Homo sapiens: one gene and its partners. The protein of the gene in region 4 purifies or fractionates together with the protein of the main gene of each other region. This does not show direct contact. Each region holds a gene or a part of one and is shown on either strand. Other genes may lie near its edges. The genes, in order: HADH, SQLE, ABHD13 and RNFT1.

The links.
Region 1: the proteins of RNFT1 (region 4) and HADH purify together in Homo sapiens (affinity purification with mass spectrometry, with the first as the bait; one large-scale study listed by BioGRID). This does not show direct contact.
Region 2: the proteins of RNFT1 (region 4) and SQLE purify together in Homo sapiens (affinity purification with mass spectrometry, with the first as the bait; one large-scale study listed by BioGRID). This does not show direct contact.
Region 3: the proteins of RNFT1 (region 4) and ABHD13 purify together in Homo sapiens (affinity purification with mass spectrometry, with the first as the bait; one large-scale study listed by BioGRID). This does not show direct contact.

The regions. Positions count from the first base shown.
Region 1 is NC_000004.12:108,016,939-108,021,080, reverse strand, and holds part of HADH (hydroxyacyl-coenzyme A dehydrogenase, mitochondrial isoform 2 precursor), read right to left. Parts: intron 1,542-4,142; coding exon 1,415-1,541; intron 1-1,414. UniProt on the Homo sapiens protein: Mitochondrial fatty acid beta-oxidation enzyme that catalyzes the third step of the beta-oxidation cycle for medium and short-chain 3-hydroxy fatty acyl-CoAs (C4 to C10).
Region 2 is NC_000008.11:125,001,074-125,005,215, reverse strand, and holds part of SQLE (squalene monooxygenase), read right to left. Parts: intron 2,041-4,142; coding exon 1,788-2,040; intron 1-1,787. UniProt on the Homo sapiens protein: Catalyzes the stereospecific oxidation of squalene to (S)-2,3-epoxysqualene, and is considered to be a rate-limiting enzyme in steroid biosynthesis.
Region 3 is NC_000013.11:108,227,861-108,231,678, reverse strand, and holds part of ABHD13 (protein ABHD13), read right to left. Parts: intron 2,481-3,818; 5' UTR 2,461-2,480; coding exon 1,447-2,460; 3' UTR 1-1,446.
Region 4 is NC_000017.11:59,951,406-59,955,048, forward strand, and holds the end of RNFT1 (E3 ubiquitin-protein ligase RNFT1), read right to left. Parts: intron 2,742-3,643; coding exon 2,640-2,741; intron 1,707-2,639; coding exon 1,572-1,706; 3' UTR 835-1,571; downstream 1-834. UniProt on the Homo sapiens protein: E3 ubiquitin-protein ligase that acts in the endoplasmic reticulum (ER)-associated degradation (ERAD) pathway, which targets misfolded proteins that accumulate in the endoplasmic reticulum (ER) for ubiquitination and subsequent proteasome-mediated degradation.

The DNA of each region.
Region 1 (4,142 bases), on a different chromosome or scaffold from region 4:
TCTTCAAAAAATCAGCCTTAGGGGATAGGAGAAAATAGGAGGAAGCTGAGAAGCAATGTTAGTAAGACAGAAAAAGTCCCATTGCAAGATGGTCAAAGTTGTCACTTGAGAGAAAATGCTAAAAAAAATGGTCATTATTATGACTTATTAAAAATGCTTATGCTGAGTAGTGGTGAGGGAATGAGGAGGATAAAGGAAGGAAAAGGTAGTTGGAAAAGGCAATAATGAAGAAAACAGACGATACACACTCCCAGAGAGGCCACAGCCAGTGTGTGTAGGTTTGCCTGGCCCCACATCACCCACATGGCAGCATCAGCGTCCCCCACACTTCGCAGGGCAATAACTCCTCAACCTCAGAACAAATGCTACTTTAATAGCGGCTGCTCCTCAGACCCTGTAATTAGGACCCTGTAAAAGGCAAGTTGTCCCATTTCAGGTGCAAATTGCCTACTGTGACTCCAACTCCAACATATTGGAGTCTCCAAGCATTCCAAACAGGATGCTGGGGAAGCCCTCCCTGCCTCCCCGCTCCACCTTCCAGGTTTATGGTCAGGAGGCTCAAGGCTATCAGAAGCTGGTTTTATTTTTTTACTTTTAGGGTTTTTTTATTCGATATAGGATCTTGCTCTGTCATCCAGGCTGGAGTGCAGTGGTGCAATCACAGCTCACTGCAGCCTCAACCTCCCAGGCTCAATCAATCCTCCCACTTCAGCCTTCCAAGTACTGGAGACTACATGCGTGCACCAAAACCCCTGGCTGATTTTTTATTTTTTGTAGAAATGGGGTCTTGCCATGTTGCCTAGGCTGTTCTTGAACCCCTGGGTCTCAAGCAATCCACTAACTTCCACCTCCAAAAGTTCTAGGATTACAGGCATGAGCCGCCGCACCCAATGGGAGCTGGTTTTAATAGCTCTGATCACAATGCACAGGAGATGTACCTCATCTGGGGACAACGCTAAGGCACCATTACATGGGGTCAGAATTAACCCCAGGAACTGTGGACAAGCTAGTATAGTGTATCTAATGAGAACTGCATTTACAGCATGGGCAAGCTGACCTCGACGAGATAATATGAACACATGTAGCTGCCCTCTGTGTGGTCCCATCCAGCCCACGGTTTCTAGTGCTGCCTTCCCATTCTGATGCCTCTCAGCACTGCCCATCAGCTCTGGCACAAATAAGTAAATGACATTCCACAAAGTTAACAGCCTTTCTGGATATCACTAAGCAAGACACAGGGCTGTGAAGAAACAAAGCATAGAAGCCCTCCTAGATATGAGGCTCAGGGACAACCTTCTACCCTCAGGTTAAAACCCATCCTAGGCAACTGGTGGCAGGGCTGGTGTAACACAGAAAAGCAGGACTGAGAGAGCTGGCAGAGCGGGCAGACACACACAAGCTGACACCCACTGACCTCCACAAGTTTCATGACAGGCACTGGGTTGAAGAAATGGAGGCCAGCGAATCGGTCTTGTCTGGTGGTGGCATTAGCTATGCTTGTAATCTGCAAGGAGGAAGTGTTGCTGGCAAAGATTGTATGTCTGTGAAGAGAAAATATAGTGGGAGTATCAGAGTGAATCTCTTCTTTCAAAACAGCATGACTCTTGGATGCAATGCACAAGGTGACTGCTTACTGCCACATCTGTTGTCCTGACCCATTGGGGGAATGAGGGAGAAGACACATCTTCATATAAGAGGCTGAAATCAAGTGACTTCAGCTTTTTAAAAATTTTTAAATTTGAAATAAAATTGGAATTTCCTGTTCCGAAGAGGTATTTAACCTTCACCAATCCTTCCTTGATTTTCCAGAACAAAATTTCCCCTACCTACTTGTATTAGTTAACTTCCAAGGTATGTGAGATAACAAGAGGTGGCTAATTGATCAAGCTACTTAACCAACCCCAGTCACAAACGAAACTCAGTGATCAAAAAATAATGAAAGAAAGACACCTAAAAGCAACAAAATTCTAAATGAACACATAAATCCTCAATCAGAAACATATGATAATAAACGTGAATTAAGATATTTTCCCTGAAGTGAAAAGCTTTATTTTTCAATTGAATGGGAATTAAAATGAAAACAAGAACACCAACATGGTTCAAAAAAATTTTAAGGTTACATGGGTAGATATGGGGAAAAGAGGATATAGGCATATGCATATATAAGACATTAACTTATTCATTAAAAAAAATCCATACTGACTTAAACCAAATTTAGTTCTTTAAGGCCACAGTAAAGTGGCGTGCCAAAAGCATGAGAGGAAAAGCTTTAAACAGGTTGACTTCCAGGCTTTCCTGCAGCGCCACCTTGCGGATAAAAACATACAAACAGGCCTGGTGCTGATTCCAACCAAGATGGACTGTAACAGGGCAGGAAAGGAAAGGATCCCTTACTGACCAGGCTTGGGGGTTTCTGCTTACCTAACAGGCAATACTATAATCTGCTCAAATCAGGGGCGGGTGGGAGGAGAGGAGGAAGAGAAGGGAGAAGAAACCAGTTATTTGGAAAGGAGGGAAAAGAGGTAAAAGGCGAGACCAGTGTGGGTAGGCAGCGGAGAGCCTTCTCTTTCCAGGTATGAGCACATCCACCTTCTCCAACAGCTTCCAAGGTAGGCCATTTAAATGCCAGGGTTTCCTTTTTAAAAAAAAAATGACATTGTTTTAAGGTCTTAAAATTTCAGTTTTCAAAGTTTCTTGCTTTTGGTCATTGGGGAAAATAATATAAACTATTCCCCATTACAGAAGGTAATGAAAAAAAGATCCTCTTCCAATAACAATGTGTGTGGCCAACACAAGCACTGTTCAACCACACAACCTGCACCACAAGCACCTGGAACCACAAAAACAGAGCAGGGACAGCCTGGGCCCAAGGCTGTGCCAGCTGTGGCTCCACACTCCCGTTAAGAAAAGAAAGTGTTATTTTAAAGATTAGTATTACAATCGTAATACCCCTTTTTGTAGAATGTTTGAAGGGCCATTCACCTGCAAAAAGGGGAAACTTGGGCACATTTGGTAAAATAAAGTGACATCAGAGCCCAGTTCCAGGTATCACCAGTCCAGGGCACTCTGGCACATTTTATCAGAAGGAGGAAATGATCTCTCCCCAGCAGACCTCTGCTTCTGCCTCTCCCAACAGGGTCAGGCTGACTTTGTTCCTAAAAGTCTCACACTGTCTTCAGAGAATACTAAACACATAGGACAGTCTTTTCATCCACAAACAAAATGTACTCTGGGCTGGGCACGGTGGCTCACACTTGTAATACCAGCACTTTAGGAGGCCGAGGCAGGTGGATCACTTGAAGTCAGGAGTTCGAGACGAGCCTGGCCAACATGCCCCGTCTCTACTAAAAATACAAAAATTAGCTGGGCATGGTAGCGCATGCCTGTAATCCCAGCCACTAGGGAGGCTGAGGCAGGAGAATTGCTTGAACCTGGGGGGCAGAGGTTTCAGTGAGCTTAAGATCATGCCACTGCACTCCAGCCTGGGCGACAGAGCGAGACTCCGTCTCAAAAAAAAAAAAAAAGTACTCTTACATGTTCCTGGAAACACTTGTCTTGAACCATCTTTTGTTTTTTTCATTCGGACACTCAGGTACCAAAAAAACTACTTTTCTCTTAAATGTTCTAAAAGAAAATCGACAACACAAGCACAGTGATTATTAGCAATGGCCCCAGACCCTAGTATAAAGAAGACAAGAGGGTTGGTGGGGATGGCAAAGGATTCAAGAGTCTGTACTTTGTCTAAAGGGGAAAGTCAGGACTTCGATCTGGCTGCCTGTGCGTCTGGTCATACTTTTCATTTGTGTGTCTTAGGCTGCTGCTAGAGAAGTCATGTTCTCTCCAGGATGCAACTGTTTCATCAGGGCTTCCAACCCGAAATGTATCACTTGACTATATTTTCTTCTCCCATTATAGGATCGAACTGTAAAATTTGTCAGTAAAGTACCTCTCAATACGGCTGCTTAAAAATTGTAGCAAGCATTCAATAATGGTGGTGATCTAAAACAAAAACAAACAGTGCCAAGAAAGGTGGAGAAGGTCAGCAGCAAAGTCACATCTTTGGTATGACTATGGGTCATGCCTTCTTTTCACACCTCATATCTGTTTTGCATCAATTCAGGTTAAAGAGCCTAGTGTAGTGC
Region 2 (4,142 bases), on a different chromosome or scaffold from region 4:
TAAAGACATAGGAACACATTTAGTCCTTCTTAACACTTCTTTCAATGTATGAATATGTAGATTTGTCACCAAAAAGAAATAAAAATAAAATAAAACCAGTATGGAAACTCAAAAAAAAACCCCAATTTATATATAATGACTGAATATATGAAAAAGTAGATTTTCCAAACCAAATGGAAAGGGTAGAGTTATCCCCCAACTGTTGATGATTACATACTATCCATTAAAAGTGACTCAGGACAAACTGCAAAGAACTTTTTAGTACATCAAATAATTTAAATGGCAGCAAACAAAACACTGAATTCATCAGAATCATGTAAAAACTTCTTTCTTAAATCTAAAGCAGCAAAAGCAGTTGAAAAATAAAAAACTTTCAATAGAAAATATCACATTTTTAAAGTGCCAACCGAAAATTAGAAAGTTAAAAAATTAATTTTAAAAATAAAAACTAAAACAATACTTTGGGAAAGACATATGAAATAGAACAAAAGATTAATACATGTATATATAATAAAATTTACTCATTAAAAACCACTGGAAAAATATTAAGACGCCAATAGTAATGGACAAAAACATGTATGGATGATTCATATAAAGCAATATAGAAACAGTGAACAAATCAGAAAAAATGTTCAAACGATAAAAAAAATTAAGTAAAAATTGAAACAACAGGACACCATCAAAATCACTGATGAGATTATGATAAAACTGATAAATTCATATACTACTGGTGATACTATGAACTAATATTATATTTTAGAAAATATAACAATAATTATCAAGAACCATGAAGAAATTAGCATCCTTCGATGTAATAATCTTACTCTTGGAAATCCATGTAAGAAATTCATCCTAAAGACATAATATTTAATAATCTTTAAAGTTACATGCAAGAATAGGTTCACTATAGTGTTACCTAAAAAAGGATAACTGAAAATAACCTAAACATTCATCTAAGTTTGAAAAGTGAAGTACATTATGAAGTCAACTGAAAAACAACTATGCTTGGGCTTAAAAAGATACTGATAAAGAATGGTTAACAGTATTGGAAATATGTTTCTGTCAAGTGAAAAAGTGGACTCTAGTATATATATTAGTGACATAAAATGTTCAAATATGGTATTGACTGGATGTCTGTGTCCTCCCAAAATTCCTAAGCTAAAACTCTAATCCCCAATGTGATGATATTTGGAGATGGAGCCTTTAGAAGGTGATTAGGTCATGAGGGTAGACTCTCACGATAGGATTAGTGCCCTTGGAAAAAAAGACAGGGGAGGGCTTGCTTCTTTGTGTCTCTCCCACCTTCCCCACCCCACCCCACCCCACCACCCCATCCCCACACAAAGTAGACAGTGCATAAATATTTCCTAAATGAATAGCCAGTGCTTAAAAAGCACTGGTTGAATGGATGAATGGTGCTTAAATAAAAGATTCTAAGTAATAACACTGTAACAAGTATACAACATACCCTCTACAAATGACAGTTCCCTTCGCCTTTCACAAAATTTAATGCCCTCATTCTAGGATTTTCCAGTCCTTAATTTTGACCATTACAATCTTTTGGCCATTTTATTATATCTCATTAAGTCTAATTCACATCTAATCATACTATTAAATGCTTATTTTATCCTTTGCTCTCACTTTCATGCAAATTTGTTGGTAAATGAGTATAGAAAATTTTATAAATGAAAATAAAATGGAATACCTTCTTACTGGTCATAGGATGGTCTAAGTGAAGAGTGCTTGTTCATACCACGTAACTCTCCTGAAAATCAATATGAACCTACCTCCAAGACCAAGGTCTTTGAGAACATGATAACCACCCGGCTGCAGGAATTCTCCAACTATTCTGTCAGGCTCTTTTAAGTCTCTCTCAATGACTGTCACCTTTCTTCCATCTCTGGAAAGCACAGCTGCCAAAGCAGAGCCAAGCACGCCAGCTCCCACGATGATAACTTCTGGGTCATTCTGAGAAGATGTTGATGTACAGGCAGCTGTTCCTATTAAGCTTGTTTCTGAAATATTGGTTCCTTTTCTGCGCTGTTTAAAAAAAAAAAGGTAAACTAGGTATCCAAATTTGTTAGATTCAAATCATGCTACCGCTATGTGGACACACTGGACTTTTGCATCCTAGGCTAAAGCTAGATACTAAATATTATCAAACCAAACAAATTGTTACATTTTAAAATCTAGATAATATATAAAAATCAATGATATCAAAATATTCGTTAAATAAAAGTGTGTCATATTATCCCAATAAAATTAAATATTTATTGTTTTCTAAACATGATATTTGGAAAATGTTATACAGACATATTTAGAAATCCACACTGGGCCGAATATAATAAATGTTTATAAGGGGCTTCAAAGACTTATTATAGGGCAAACTGTATCATTAATAACTAAATTCTTCAAATATATCCTGGGAATCGACAAGATGCAAATCACTTACAACTTCTGATTTGAGTTCATGTTACAAACTATTCGGCACCTTTTAGACATTTTCTTTTTTTTGTTTGTTTTTTTGTTTGTTTGTTTGAGACTGAGTTTCACTCTTGTTGCCCAGGCTGGAGTGCAATGGCGCAATCTCGGATCACTGCAACGTCCGCCTCCTGGATTCAAGCAATTCTCTGGCCTCAGCCTCCCGAGTGGCTGGGATTATAGGCATGTGCAACCATGCCCGGCTAATTTTGTATTTTTAGTAGAGACTGGGCTTCTCCATGTTGGTCAGGCTGGTCTTGAACTCCCGACCTCAGGTGATCCTCCTGCCTCAGCCTCCCAAAGTGCTGGGATTACAGGCGTGAGCCACTGCGTGCGGCCTTAGATATTTTCATTATTCATCTTTATTTTCTCTTTCTGGATTTTCATTTGAAAAATCTATGTTAATTTAATATCACTTTTATATGACAAAAGGATTGTCAAATCCTGCCTACCAATCTATTAATTGAAGATTATCTAAATAAACAAAATTACAAGAGAAGAAATAACTCATACCGACTCTTAGATTTGACTTGTTTACAATTTTGGTCCTTAACATATAAGCACATATTTAATTTATCCCTCCTTTTTCCCCATCCTGATACTCTAAGAGATCCTAGTCAAAGAGGTGGTCCCCAAAAAAGGAACAAGGAAAAACATTAAACCTGTCACTGGCTGAACTGACAGCAAAACTTTAACTTTGATCATAAAAAGATGCAAAGTCTTGTTTTGAGAGATTTATGACCACTAAGAACAACAGTGCACAGTGGCTTTTTAAAATGAACAATTCAATTTTGTAGTATTTCTTCTTGGTAGATGGATTCACACATTTGAATACATTTCAGATACAGAATTGCAAGGAACCACCTTCCTTGAGTTCTTTGACCTTAATGATTAAGATAAGACTAAATGCCATTTGAAGGGGTTTTTAAAAAATAATCAAGCAAAAAGGAAGACGAAGCCTAAAATCCTTTAGAACTTTACTCTGTGATTCTAATATCCACCCAGCATTCTTTTACCTCTATAGTGGACTGGGAATTTGTCTATTCTTTTTTTTTTTTTAATTTCTCTCAGAAAAATACTTTTCTGTCCTTTTACTATGGGAAGATCTCAATATTCTACTCTTCCCATTAGTATGTCTTAATGGCCAGAACTGACTATATTTAAATTACTGTAGGGGGCAAGACAAGCCCCTTTTGTCATCTTAACCAAAAATGTGCTTCTTCATAAGTTTTTCCTGTTTTATATACACACACACACACACACACACACACACACACACACACACCCTGAAAGGAGAGCTCTGGAGGAAAACAGGCCTTGCAGAGCCTGATCAGTAGAGTAAGCACTAATGGGAACTTAGTAGTCAATAGATCACAATCTAACAACTCCCTGGTTCACAAAAAAATAAAGAGAAAGCCTGGGGCGTTCACAAAATGGAACCAATATTGATTGCTGGTAACCCAATTTTCCTACTCCAAAATTTCTCTACACAGCATGAAAACAGGAACAGCATTCCAGCCACCTGAACTAGAGCTCAGTGACCTTAAGGGAAATTATTTCAGACCACAATACAAAAAAGTTCAAATTAAACATTAAGGATTCTCTCTCCCTCCTTTCCCATTCCTCAAACCCATGCACCATGTCACTGAACTCAGCGCTAC
Region 3 (3,818 bases), on a different chromosome or scaffold from region 4:
TATTCAAAATATTATATGTTAAAGCTGACATAATATTACACAAAGCTCAATTACATCTAATTTTTGAGGACTGCATGAAACAACTTGGCACAATTATGACTCATAGCGTGTATTTTTATTAAGTAAATCCTGCAAGTTTCAAGGGGCTTTTTTCTAAGTAAGATTTTCTTACTTTTCTATACATCTAAATCCTACTTCCCACCTATAGCCATTTAACTGCTAAATGTGGTAATAGGTTTTGTGTCAAAAAGCTCCAGAATTCCTTCATTCCCACACTCCTACATGTAAAACTTTTAAAATCAATAAATAAGACTTCCTAAAACTGTCTTTTGATTGTAGGAGTTCTATTTCACAGCAACTGGAACATTAAAACCAAGAACATTGTTTTGTTGTTGTTGTTGTTGGATTTTGTAACTTTTATTTTCAAGAAGTCCAATAAATGATATCTTGCCTTTGATAGGTTAGATATAACTAGGTACTGGGATTTAAAATCAAAGGTGAGAATTTTTATAAAGTAGTATGTACAATCCTGCAATGATAAAAGACTTCCTAATTTAATTCTAAGTAGTGCTAATCTTCACTATGACTGCTATTAGTGGTTCAGCTGAAGACTTACAAAATCGATAGAAGCTAAAATTCTCTTTGCCACCAAAGTTACAAATGTTAAAAAGTTCAAATATGCACATCAAAGCTGCAGTAAAATTCTAAATTTCTATTTCTACATGCCATGATCCAGACTGTACCTAACAAAAACACGGTACATTTGTATTGGAAAACAGGGTCCCATTTATTTGTAAGAAAAAGCTGGATCTCAGCATTCACCAGAGCAAAATTCAATGGCAACCTGCACATAAGTCTCAATTTCACTTCTTGCCAAAAACAAAATAGAGTTTACATAAAAATAGATATAACCCAGATAACCATATACATCAGTATATGACCAGTGCTATTTACATGTAAAATGTTGCATTGCATAATTCAAGGAATAAAATACCATCATGCATTTCATTTAACTTTTAAGGTGAAAAATGCAGTTACAGAACTAAGTTTGCTTACCATGATTGTCCCAATATTTACTTAAGAAACAATACCCAAAGGTTTCTTGTTTACATATCTCTTTCCACATCTAGCTATTCATCTGTGTAACAGATTACACCACTTTAGCAACAAGAAACTTTTGAACAATATCTATTATACTGACATATTAAACTGAAGATATGAATACATAATCACACTGAAAGTTTTGATGAAAATGTATGAAAGAATCCCAAGAATTAGTTTTTCCAATGTAAAAAACTATTTGGAATATCGTAAAGGAGCAGTGAAGTCCTTTCAAAGTTTAATGTCACTCTTCAGACAGGTACAGACATAACACACTTCTAAAAGGAACATTCTTTATCATTCTGCACAAATTAAAATACAATGCAATAATCAAAAAGGGAAACATTATATAATTGTTACATTAGATGAAGTTTTTGCCATTTCTTCAGGAGAATGGCTCTTTACGACTTCTTTGATGAACTGTTCAAGTGCAGTGAAATAGCCTTGGCACTGCCATGTGTCATTGTGAGTCCCATCTGGAAAAATGGCTAATCTCTTAGTCCGAGATGGGGAGAGTTCATAAAGTTGTTTCATCATTACTGGTGGAATTAATTGATCTGAGAGTCCAGAGATGAAAAGTGAAGGCATTCTACACTGAGAGATTTTTCTGTAGGACAAAAATTTATTTTTGTAGCACCATAAAGGAAGGTAACGCATCGGAAAGAATGAAAATAAAGTGCTGGCCATATGTGGTATGCTTAAAAATGTGTTCTCCACCATAATGGCTGAAATCCTATGTGAATTTTCAGAAGCCAAATGAATAGCCACTGCTCCACCCAAGGAACGGCCAAAAAGAAAAATTTTTGTTTTATCAAGGTCAGGTCTAGTCATCACGTAGTCTAACACAGCTTCAGAATCTAAGTAGAGTCCTTCTTCACTTGCTTCTCCTTCACTTTTTCCATATCCTCGATAATCAACCAGCAAAAGGTTAACTTTGAGGTTAACCAACATAAGTAATGCATTTGGCAACCTGTGACCTATGTTGCCTGCATTCCCATGAAAATAAATTATAGTTGGGGAATAGGGTGAATTGTCTCCAGTGTATCGTATCAAAATAAGATTCAGACGTATTCCATCTTTGGTTCTGATGAAAATGTTTTCATGTGGAATGCCAGTGGGCATGGGAACATAAAGACGTGAAGAGGATGGCTGTTCTGGAAAATAAAGCAATACATCCTGGAATTTATACAGAATACCTGCTATTGATATGAATATTAACAAAAGTAAGATAATGCCTCCATACAGATGAAAAGTCACTATTAAAGGTAAAAGAGAAATACGGCAGAGAGCCCAAGACCATGAAGCCAAGGCTATTAGCCATCTTTCAACAAAGTTCCACAGCATCCAGGACTTTTCCATTGTAGCTCTCTGTAAGTATCCTAGAGAGAGAGAGGGAGAATATCAATAATTCAACGTCTATCTATTCTTTTAAAAATCCACAATATAATAAACTATGGTACTAGGCCACATGTAATTGTTAAATATGGTAATAGGTACAGTCCATCCACAAAAGTAGCTGCTATAATTTCCCTTGTCCTTTCTGTTCTCAACAGTTTCCTTTCTACCATATCCCTCCACTGTCATATTTAGGAAACACTAATATTCTTCAAATTAACTCATTTTTAACAAGTGCTTATTCTTCATATACGTGTTCTCACGGATTTGACCCAAAAAAAGTTGATGCGATAGTGTCATTTTTTTTTTTTAATGAGAAAACAGAAGCTCAGGGGCATAAGTAGACTGGCTATCATCTGCTTCTCAATGTAGAAGAGCTGGGAGGCAAACAAGCATGATTCTAGAGATTGTGGTACATCTGCTGTTAGGTTACGTATGTCCAGGGCAAACTGTACTGAAAAGGCAGTTCAGAAATTCCAACATAGCAAGACCAATCTAATATACTTTGTCAATTTTTTTCACATACGGTAGCAAAAACTAAAGAAACTAGGGTAAGGAGTTGGGCAAAACAAAATAAAACAAAAAAAAACAACTAGGGAAAGAAAGAATAAAAGTATCCCCCCTCTACCTCGAAGTTTTAATACTAAACTTAAATAATTTGCTTAAACACTAGATTCTAATATTGTATTAGTTTTAAGAAAATTATTAATGATTTATCTTTCATATGTAATTAAAAATAAATATCATATTGCTAGTGTCATGAGATCGGCAGTATCTTTTATATACTCTTTAATGAAGTTTCACGTCCTGGGGTCAATAGATTGCTAAAATGTATTGATAAGGCAATAAATACTTGAGGGTTCAGTGTGAAACAAATACACAGAAATCCTCTGAGAAACAGAGATAAATAAAGTAAAATGACTCACTGGAGAACAATTCTTAAAAAGATTACTAAAATATGTTAACTGATATAAAGAAAGTAAAAACTATTAAAAGAGAATTTTTTGTTATCAAAAGGTTTATACATGTTGTCTTAAAAAGGCAAAAGAATTGAGATATGTTACAAATTTTCTTATGTACTATTCGTCTACTTATGCTTATTTACTGAACTTTTAAAAATACTACATTTCCTTCTTTCCCACTGACCAAACTGCTATAAAGAGGTTATAGATTGATTATACAAATAATGAGTTGGATGATTTAACAAATTTGATTTTTTTCTATTATTTCACTAAACATAGACTTTTACATTTGAATTATTATTCAAATGAACTGAACCTTTTTGAGCATAAACCAACATTTTTCTGATTTCCCAGAAATCA
Region 4 (3,643 bases):
TCTCACCCATCCTCTGCCGTATACCTAAATAATACAACTATTAGCATCACCACAAAGCCATTTAAATAATATTTGTAGTGGGTCTCAAAGTAGATAACAGAGTAAAATATACTGTAATTGAATATAGTTGTACTTACAACCTGGTAGTATTTACCTGGAGAGAAAAAAATGGTACAGGCTTCCTAATGTTTGTTTGTCAATTTGGATGGCTGTACAGTCATGGAAGTGCCTTCTATAACCAGTTGGTCAGTTTGCTAAACTAAACAATTCATTTGCTAGTTTAGCTTTTGTCTTATCAGTACAGCAAATCTGTTTTCTACCTCTGCTTCCTAAGTTCTTTCTACCACCTTTTCCTCGACTACAAACTGATAGATGTACTCTAAACTTGGATATAAGCACTAGCAGCCCTTCAGACATGTTTTAGATTTCAGATTCCTCCTTAGAGGTAACAAGGGGAGAAAGTGCTTCATTCTCTTTTCTAGCACCCTGCACAAATACCTAGAGGCGAACAAACCACACTATCAAAACCTCATGACCACCTCTCAGTGCGAGCTTCAATCTTCCAATTGATGGTGATTCAAGCATAAAATTCCAAAACTTTTATGGAGAAGACTAATTATAAGGGCAATTTTTTATAAGATTTTAGGGCATCTGTCTTGAAACTTTTTTCTTTTAAATAGAGATGGGATGTTGCCCAGGCTGGTCTTGAACTCCTGGGTTCAAGCAGTCCTCCTGCCTCTGCCTCCCAAAGTGCTGGGATTACAGGTGTGAGCCACCATGCCTGGCCATTTGTCTTGTTTTCTATACTATTCAAATCATCAAGTAAGCCAGCTGTTTATAATCCACATGAATTATTTTAATAGTTACTTCGAGATACTCCATGGTACTATACAAAAAGCATGATCATGAACATTAAAGCTGATGGCAGGAAGAATTTATGACGTCCAGAGACAAAATGAATTTAAATCATTTATTTTCACTTATTACTAATCTTACTACAGAGAATAATACAATACTATAATGTATCATCCTCAGTAAATTAATCTTCACTTAGAAAATGTTACTGATAAAATACAACATTTAGAATTTTCATTTAAAAATACAAATTTTATGAAAATATTAAGAATTTTTAGGATGGGAATTATAAAAGTCAATGCTGAACAAAATTCTACTTTTAGATAGTATGTATCTTAAAATATTATGAAAAATATTCTTTATTCTGAAAACAATGTCAGGAAAGAATACCTGAGTTCTCTAAAACCACTAGTTCTAATTTCAAATTGCTGTTTTGGTAACATAAAGAAAACACATTTACAATTTAACACTGCAGTTACCTGTCAAATAATTAGAATAGAATAAATGTTGCATATACATTAGGTTGAACATTATATATATTTTAAAACACAGGGTGGTTTCATTTAATCTTTTGGTGAATTGGATCATAAGTCCTACATTCTAAAACCATCTGGAAACATTTTTCTGGTAGCCCTGAAAATCCATTCTGATGCCTTATCAGTAGTCATTATGACCAAATGACATTAGTATTTTGTGGCCTTGATAGTTTATACAACTTAATATATTTGAAGGTGTGATGAAGTGGCTCCATCCTTCCATTTGTTTATATGGTCTGAAATCACAGTTCTGCAGAGTGGACATGTTTTCTCTCTGTTAAACCATAAGGTCATGCACTCTTCACAAAATATATGCTGTAATGGAATTAAGAATTAGATTTGATATTTGATAATCATTTTAAATCCATCACATTGTAGGGAATGAAAGGGATTCTTTTTTTTTTTTTTTTGAGATGGAGACTGAAGTCTTGCTCTGTCACCCAGGCCGGAGTGCAATGGCACCATCTCGGCTCACTGCAACCTCCGCCCCCGACTGGTTCAAGTGATTCTCCTGCCTCAGCCTCCCAAGTTGCCGGGATTACAGGTGACCACCACCACCATGCCCAGCTAGTTTTTTTATTTTTAGTAGAGACAGGGTTTCACCATGTTGGTCAGGCTGGTCTTGAACTCCTGACCTCAGGTGATCCACCCACCTCAGCCTCCCAAAGTTCTGGGATTACAGGCGTGAGCCACTGTGTCCAGCCTGAAAGGGATTTTGAAGAGCACTAATCCCCTCATTTTACAATTGTGAAAATGGAGAACGTATGAGACATTCAAGAAGACAAAGAGCAGTATGATTGGTAGAGCCACTAGTGTTCTGGCTGTACCATCCATTTAACCATAAAAGCTATCCTTAGGTGACACCTTTAAGATTAAGTATGATAACTGCTTAAGGTCTTTGAGTTACTAGTAACTGCCATAAAGTATAGGAAAGGGCCACAATCCAGTAACAAATGTCAGTATTGTTCTACATGGCTAGTATCCAATTATAAAATAGCCTGTTTTTTAATCACTTTGGTATTCAATCTGCCAGTTGAATTATTTTTTCCCCTTCATACGCTCCTCTGCATAAAAATTATCAGAACATAAGGGACAAAACTTAGCCAATCCACTAGTATGTACCCTGAATGCTACCTTCCACTAAACACTAGATTTTTTTTTTTTTGCCTTACAGCAAACATAAATTTGACTTTTGCAAGTCACAGAGAACTGTTGTATTTAGGTTTTTAAATTTAAAAATGTAATTACCTGACAAATGAGAAGAATTGGCTTCTGAAATTCAGCTTGACATATTGAACAAATATCATCCACATCTGAACACTGTCTCTTGCTGGCAGCCACTCCATAACTCTATGAAGATAGTAAGTTCTGTTCATCTACAAATTTCTTTCTTTCCTGTTCCTCAAATTACATAAGTAATGCTGTACTTCTCAAATCTCCCTGGAACCAGGCATTTGAAAAACTTCCCAAAGGATACAAACATCTCAAAGCTGAGCCATATACAGAACCACCTCTTGAGTGCACCAAAATGAAATCATTAAATAATACATAATAGGATTTTGAAAGATTGTTAGATCTACTAGCTTTACAAAGGATGATAGTGCTTCAAATTCAACATAACTGGCTTAAGAGACTAAGCAATCTGAAATGTAACTATTATAAAATCTATAGCCATGTATTATTTGACCCAGGACTGCCAAATTGAGCTTATTACCTGCAGCAGTGGTTCATAAAGTCAATCCAGCCAGAGGTTGGCTGGTTGAATGTAACTCATGTGGAAAGCTTGCTTTAAAAATAGATTTCTCTGTTCCACACAATATCAATTCACTAGGACCAGACATATTGGGATGTGACCCAGTAATCTATTATTTGAAAGGTCTCCAAGTGAGTGCAATATGAAGAAGACTTAGGGACCACTGAAGAATTTTCTGCCACTAGGTCTAAAAATTATTCGAAATTATAAAAAGCATTTAGTGCTAAACATAAAAAAGTTTTACGGAGAAACTGCAACTGTAAATGTCGCTTTGGTAGAATAACTACTGTCAAAACTAACTGAACAAAAATGCAATTATTTGAATTTTCTTCTCTTCTAATGTCCTAATAACAAGTTACTCGTCTCTAAGATTTTAACCTCCTCACCAGATTCAGAACTTAGTCATTAACTAGATGTGATGTCAATAACCCTCAGTGAAATTTGGAGAAATCAAAATGTTACAAATGAAACCTGCTTTCTGTAGAAATGATGGGGAAGA